2 linked regions of the Homo sapiens genome follow. The protein of the gene in region 1 interacts with the protein of each later gene in a pairwise test. Each region holds a gene or a part of one and is shown in the gene's direction. Other genes may lie near its edges.

What was found. The genes of interacting proteins can lie anywhere in the genome.
Region 2: the proteins of NECAB1 (region 1) and CPNE8 interact in binary tests that used the Homo sapiens proteins (3 or more experiments, as listed by UniProt).

Annotation. Positions count from the first base shown.
Region 1 is NC_000008.11:90,794,630-90,798,379, forward strand, and holds part of NECAB1 (N-terminal EF-hand calcium-binding protein 1), read left to right. Parts: intron 1-3,750.
Region 2 is NC_000012.12:38,903,485-38,907,234, reverse strand, and holds the start of CPNE8 (copine-8), read left to right. Parts: upstream 1-1,643; 5' UTR 1,644-1,700; coding exon 1,701-1,798; intron 1,799-3,750. UniProt on the Homo sapiens protein: Probable calcium-dependent phospholipid-binding protein that may play a role in calcium-mediated intracellular processes.

The DNA of each region.
Region 1 (3,750 bases):
TGCCACAACTGTTGGCTTTTCCTTCAGTATCCTCTCCAAATCAGCAATAGTAATCACTATGATACTTCCTTAGGCTGTTGTGAGTATGAAATAAGGGAAAATGGAAACAAAGCAAAAAGTATTGCATAAATTTGAAGTATTATGGTTATTTCAGTGCTGCACACTGAGTGTATTAAATAACAGTAACAGTAGCTAAATCCACAAACTGATGCAGGGACTATTTCTTCATGAATCTAATTTATAGAATTGTCTTGCTAGAATATGACAGAATTAAGTATCGGTTCATCATAAATACTCTTGAATACTGATGGGAGGCTTAGAAAACCTAGCACTGGTGCCAAGGTATGCCAGTGCATTGAGGCTGGAGCAAGCATTTGCATATGGCATGCCTGCCAGCCACAGGAGAGGGACTCAACTGGGTCCTGGCAACACATAGGACCACAGGGATTACTATTGCTTTTCCTTTTACACCAATGGACTATCATTTCCCCAGTTGCTGCAATCCAGTTAACAGAAGAGGAACTCTAGTTTGGAATACTAGTCTATGTAGCATGTGTCTCCTCTTTTGAGTCATTACATTAATCAACTCCGCTACTGTGAAAAGGGAGAAAAACAAACCTTCAACTCATCCCCAAAAGCAAGAGAAATTCCCAAACGAAATTAGTAGCAACTTCATCCACCCAATGCCACTTTCCTTTCCCATCAGTTTTCCTTTGATTTTTAACTGGAAGGGAAGTGACTGTTCCCCACTTCACTGCTAAAGAGGGAAAGAGGCTGGAAAGTTGTGAGGGGGATGAATGACTTTACTGCTTGTCTTCCCTTCCTTCCTTCGTCTAAGCATGCACACTCATGTACACTCTGAATGCAAGATACAGAGCATAGATGGTCAGGAACTTGGTGAAAACAAGAAATAGTTTCTTTTCACAAGGACACTTAATTCTGAAGCCCCATATATGCTCATTTGTATGATGTGTGAGATGCACAGAGGAATGTCGAAGCCGAATGAGTCTTCCAGATGCAATGGTTCTGTGACTGAACTCTGTTATAGCCACACACCTCCCATCTCACCTCATCTCTCTCACACACACACACACACACACACACACACACACTTGCTCATTTGAGTGAGATTGTCCAGTTCAGAGGATGGCAGTTAACCCCATCATTGTCTACCCTCATTGGCAAGGCAAATGTCACTCTTGTAGTTATAGGAAACAGCAGAAATTAGGAAAAAAAAATTTAATGCATGCTGGGCTTAATACCTAGGTGATGGATTGATAGGTGCAGCAAACCACCATAGCACACGTTTACCTATGTAACAACCCTGCACATCCTGTACATGTACCCCGGAACTTAAAAAATTTTTAAAAAAGTATTTAAAAATACACTTAGTCTTACTGTTATCATACATTAAAAATTGTTTTCCCACACTGGGCCTACCCTAGGCAAAATTGAGAAGATGAAAATATGTGCACTGATTCCTTCTCTCCATCCATCTTTCAGTGCCTGCTTCCCCTTATCCAGTTTCAGGGCAACCAGTGGCCTGGTAGTAAAACTACCTGCTGGAAGTCTGGGCCCACCCACCCTGGTAATGGGAGAGACTCCCATCTGACCCCAGGCAGTCTAATGATTGCGACACCTGGGCAACACCAGGCATTCTAATGGGAGAGACTCCTGCCGACCCTGTGTGGTGGGACTCCATGTTCTGGATTAGTCCTGAGTCCCTGTCTTATATTCTAGTTTCTCAGGAATCTACCAAGGGACTATTTCACCTCATTATCAAATCTTAACCTGATTCATGGTAGGAGGCACTTAGAAATATTAGTTCAGTAAATTATGATTGTGTCCATCTTTTAATGTTTCAAAGATAACATTTACATTTTAACACCTGCCTTCAATAACTTAAAGTGATGAATAAGGAATTTTAGTTGAGGCCATCAAAGAATATTTTTGAAATAAAGGAATCTATTTGATAATCTTTGAATTGTAGCGAAAACACAGTATTGCCTGTCTTCAAATTTTAAGCCTGACCATAATATTTAAATTTATTTACCATCTATCCAGTGGTAGCAACCTTAAGATCGGCTGACACAGATTATTCTGGTACCATAACGTAATGAACTTGATTCTCATCCGGAGTACATTTTTTATTAGTCTGTGGGATCAGAGGCAAAATTTGCAGCAGAGACAGTTCTGTTCATATTTAATTATAAGAACTGTCTTAATAACAAAAGCTGCTGTTTTTATTTCATCTTTCAGAGGCTAAATGCTACTTGAGATTGTTCTTTATGAAATGAAATGAACAGAAGTCCTGGGTCCAACTCTGTGGTGTGTGATTATTCTATTCTAGTTACTTCAAAATCCTGAGGACAAAATACAGCTTGAAATAGAATCTTAGAATGAACCAAAAGTAAGAAATAGGATGCGTTTCATGTCTCCCTGACTCTCAGCTGGGGCTCCATGGTTGCAGAGGACAGGAAGAAGCTGGTTGTGATAAGGGAATGAATCCTCAAAATCCCCTCTAGCAATTAACTCTGGAGGAAAAATAATCTGGGTCTCATTTTGCTTTAAGCATAACTCTTACTATTGAAAGCAGTCCTCCTGCAGTAATTACATCAATTTAGTAAAAAAGGAGGACCATCTTCTTCTGCATGCGAGTCTAGGTGATACCTACCTGTTGCTGGAACAGTTTCATTGGTGAGATCTTTAATAGTAATACTAGTATCTTAAAACACATTGTGGCAATGATTAGATTTATCTATACCTCATTTCCGTGAAGTTGGCAGAATGAAAGGAGGATAATGTTTTTATAGTAGAAAGCAGTAAAACAGACAACTTGGGAATAAAAATGATTGCTCATGTTTCAAGCTGGCCAGCAAGAAGTGACGATCTAAATATAAGAGTAGCTCTGGTTATTTAACTATAACTACAAGTTACTTAGGGAAAAAAAGTCATCCTCAAGGGCCCCTTCCAAGCAATTAAAGTTTGTCTTTGCAATGTGCTAGTGGGGCATCCTCTTTGGTACTGTATATAACATAGCTCTGTAGTATGTTATCCAGATTATTTTCTATTAGCATATCTATCAGGGTTAACTTCATTGCAGCTAGCAGGAAAAATAATGCAAACTGTTTTAAGATTGTTTTAAAAAATAATGTATTGGCTCCTGTAATGAAAAAGCAGAGATCATCTCATCAAGATTACTTAATCAGAGACTCAAGGAGTGCTATCTGGACCCAGTTTCCCTAAGTCTCTGAAAACTACTTTCCTGGGTGTTGGTTCTTTCCAGGTTATATATTGTATTAGTTTCCTAGGGCTGCTCTAACAAACTATCACAATAGAATGTACCCTCCACAGTTCTGGAGGTGAGAAGGGCGAAATCAAGCTGCTAGCAGGATGATGCTCCCTGGGAAGGCTCCAGAGGGGGAACTGTATCATACTTCCTCTCTTGCTTCTGATGGCACCTGTCAGTACTTTGGCATCCTTGGCTTTCAGCTGCACCACGCCAATACCTGACTCTTTGATCATGTGGTCTCTATCCTCTATCTCTGCATCTCTGAATTTCTCTCCTTGTAAGATGCCCAGTCATTGGACTTAGGGACCACCCAATCCAGTTATATTTTATCTTAATGGGATTACATCAGCAAACCCTATTTCTTTTCTTTTTATAACTTAAAGTTTTATTTTAGATTCAGGAGGAATATGTGCAGGTTTGTTACGTGGGTGTATCACATGATGGCGAGATTTGGGGTA
Region 2 (3,750 bases), on another chromosome or scaffold:
AAAAAAAAACCTAGATCTCTATGCCAAATTAACTTTGAGCAGCATAATAGAAATGCCTGGGGTTTTAGGGCATTTCCAAATCGCAGTAAACTACAGTTTAATTTGTAATAGGACAAGAGGAAGGAAAAAAAAAGAAGAAAAAGCGGTGGGTGGGGAAATCAGGAAAGGAAAGCAAGAAGAAACAGGGGAAGTACACTCGGCAGGGGAATCGGCAAGACTGCACCTACACACTCTCACCCGCCTCTATAGATTCTCTAGGCAGGAGGCTGCAAGTGGATTAAAATGTTACAACGCAAGGCAAGTCCTCCACCGCAAAAACTGCTCCTCCCAGACTTAGCCCAACCAGCTGGAAACTCCGTGCTTGGAGCGTTAAATCGGACGGACACCCGCCCCCTCTCCACCCTCTGCCTTCCAGCTGCGCCGCATCCTGTTCTCCGTCGCCGCCTGGTGGCGAGCTCCCGGGACCCGCAGGCGCTCGGGTGAGGCAGGAGGGAAGGCGCGGGGAACAAAGGTCCCTGCAGTGGAGGGGCGCCTCGTCTACCTCCGGATGCTTTTGCCACGACTCCGTCTTGGCACCAGTCTTGCTGCCCTGGAATGCAGTTTCCCAAACGCAGCGCTCACTCTGACTCCTCTCTGCTTTTATCCGTCAGGTCTCAGTTCTTGCGGGTGGGAGTCGGCTGAAGGAGCTGCGTTATATGGTTGTGACATCACCCTCCCCGGCCCCCATTTTCAGGTCAGAACTTTCATGCCTTTGGAAACGAGGGACCCAGAAGAGCCCTTACTGTAGGAGGAATGTCGCCGTTAGACCTCTAAGCTCCGAAGAACCAAGGGGAGACAGAATCCAGATTGCTTCCTTAAATCCCAAGTAGTATTGTTTTTTCCACCTTAGAGTCCGCCCCCCCGCCCCCACTTGTCCCATATATTGATCGGCCACTTTGCCACCGTGTTCCAAGGTTGGAGAGCGTCACAATGCCCCACCGTCCCCAACTCTCAAGTGGCCGACAGTGGGCAGTCCAGAAGCTGGGACCAGACTCATCTGCCCGAGGGCACAGTAGGAGGGACGGAGGGATCTCCCAAGAGCTCCGAGGGCGAGGTGAGAACCAATTGTGGGGAGGGGGACCTTATAACGGGGCAGTTAGGAACGGGCAGAGGTGCCCCCACCTCCAGCTTTCAACTCAGGCGAGGAAACTTCGAGACCTTCCCGTCCACACCTGATTGACAGAAGGAAGCTGTCGCGGCCCAGGAGGCGAGTGTGGGTGTGCAGAGGTGGAGACAAAACCTAAAAGCACGCAGAGCCGGCGAGGGCTTGCGGTCCTGGACGGTAGGGGTCTGCGTCTGGTGCCACCTTCTCCATCAGGCTGCTTGCTGGGTCCACCAAGCCTGACCCCTCCAGCCAGGAGGGGATCACGGAGTGTGTCCCCCGCCCGGGCTGCTGCCTGCCGGAAGGGGGCTGGGAAACCGGGATCCCCGCGCGCCACTTGCCTGGCAGCGTCAGTTTCACCCAGGACTGGCTAGCGGTTCCCTCGTGGCTCTGCGCGGAGGTCCGCCTCCTCCCTTCCCTCCCCCATCCCGCGCGCTGCCTCCGCCTCCTTCTTCTGCCTCCACCCTCAACCCCCATCCCCGCCTGACGGGAGCTAGCCCTCAGTCCGCCCGAGCTGTGGTTGTGGGCGCCGGACAAGTCCAAGGCGCCTCCTCCCAATATGGACAGCCGCTACAACAGCACTGCGGGCATCGGGGACTTGAACCAGCTGAGCGCTGCCATCCCGGCCACGCGGGTGGAGGTGTCCGTGTCCTGCAGGTGAGGACGCAGCCCTTCCCCTCTCTCCTGCCCTCTCATCTGTGGGGTTGGTAGCACTTGGAGAGCGCTCGGGGTACCACGAGGCTTTGCGCAGGCAAGAAGTTGCGCCATGAGTGGGAAATATCTCAGTAGTGGGGCTGGAGTTACCCCGGGTCAGGTGACACAGGGGAGCGGGAATTAGAAGCGGTGGGCTCCGGGACTGAGACTTTGTATTTTCTTTCTGGGAAACGCTGTAAAAGTTGGCTGGGCTGTGACTCAGCTGTGGGAACACCGGCCGCCGCCCACTTTACAAGCCGGTTTTCCGCCCCAAACCCGGGCTGGATGGTTGGGTGATGACCGGAATCGAAGGGGACAGCACTGCCAAAAGCTCTTGTGACCGCTGCACGCTTAGGCCCGGGACTTCCTCTGCTAGGCGTGTGCAAACCTGCTGTTGCTAGGGTTGGCTCCAACCCCGGCAGCTTCCTCCCCACCCACTTCCTGGAGCCTTCCAGCTTGCTTCTCCCCGACCCTTCCGGGCTTTTTGCCTTTTGCCTGATAGGTAGAGATTTCGGCCCTCCTTGCAGACGAATCTATGCCTTACCTAAGATCTGGGAAGTCACGACTTTTGTTTTGATTTGTTTTCGGGCCCACATCTGAGTGCTTGTAAAAACTGACTCTCGGCCGGGCGCAGTGGCTCAGTACAGTTTATACGCCTGTATTCCCAGCACTTTGGGAGGCCAAGGCGGGTGGATCACGAGGTCAGGAGTTCGAGACCAGCCTGGCCAATATGGTGAAACTCCGTCTCTACTAAAAATGCAAAAATTAGCCGGACGTGGTGGCACGCGCCTGTAGTCCCAGCTACTCGGGAGACTGAGACAGGAGAATCGCTTGAACCCGGGATGTGGATGTTGCAATGAGCTGAGATCTTGCCATTGCACTCCAGCCTGGGCGACAGCGCAAGACTCCATCTCAAAAAAAAAAAAAAAACAAAAAAAAACTGACTTTCAACCCTGTCCAGAGACTGTAAATTGCAAACTCGTTGTCCTGACCTTTCGGTTAGTTGCCCTGTAAATAAAGCAGCATCACCGCTATATCATAGATGATTTTGAGAAGGAGATGAGCGATGGTGCTAAATTGGTACTGGCCACTAATTTGCGAATTAATATTGACCCTGGAGCCCACTCCCTTGTTTGCATAATTGGGTCTGTCTCACTGGAAAACTGGCTCCTCATTTATCCATTTTTGCCCTAAGATTGTTTTTATGCCCTCACATCCTCCCTTTCCTTTCCTTAGCAAACTTGCCTTGAAGATATCTAACAAATTTGGGTGATCTTGATGTAAATAAGTTTAAAATTCCATCAATCTTGACTTTGCATTTTCACAAACTGAGCCTAAAGCCAAAGGAATTCTTTTCTGGGGGTGAAAATTCGAGCACCAGCAACCGTAGTAGAAGTATTATTTGAGGGTAGGGGACAGCCTTTATCTAGCCCTGAAACTATATCACCTGATTGTTTGCCGCCTCTTAAGACTGATCTGGGACTATGGAAATAATCATGCTGATAATGATAGCTATCATTAAGCTCTTGCCTCATTGCTGTCACTGCTTTAAGTGCTGCCTGAGATTTTTCTGTCAATGGAACAGGTGAAGCTGTTTGGAAAACTCTTTAGAGGATTCCTAGGCCTTTTTCTTTTCTCTGAAGCTTGCTTTCGATGTTAGAGGGAAGTTACTGGTATATACAGATAATGGATAGCCGGAAGTCCTACAATAACAGCATTACTAGAGTTCTTATCCTCTGCTCAACAGTCTGCAAAGTCTGAATGGCATGTGGCCTATACTTGGAATGAATATAAAAGAATATTGTCAATCAAGTCTGAATTTTTCCATGAGCTTTTTAAGGGAAATTATACCTAAACTGGTCATTCTGCCAGTAGGGCCCATGTTTAATGCAGCCCCTTTTTTGATGCATGTTTTC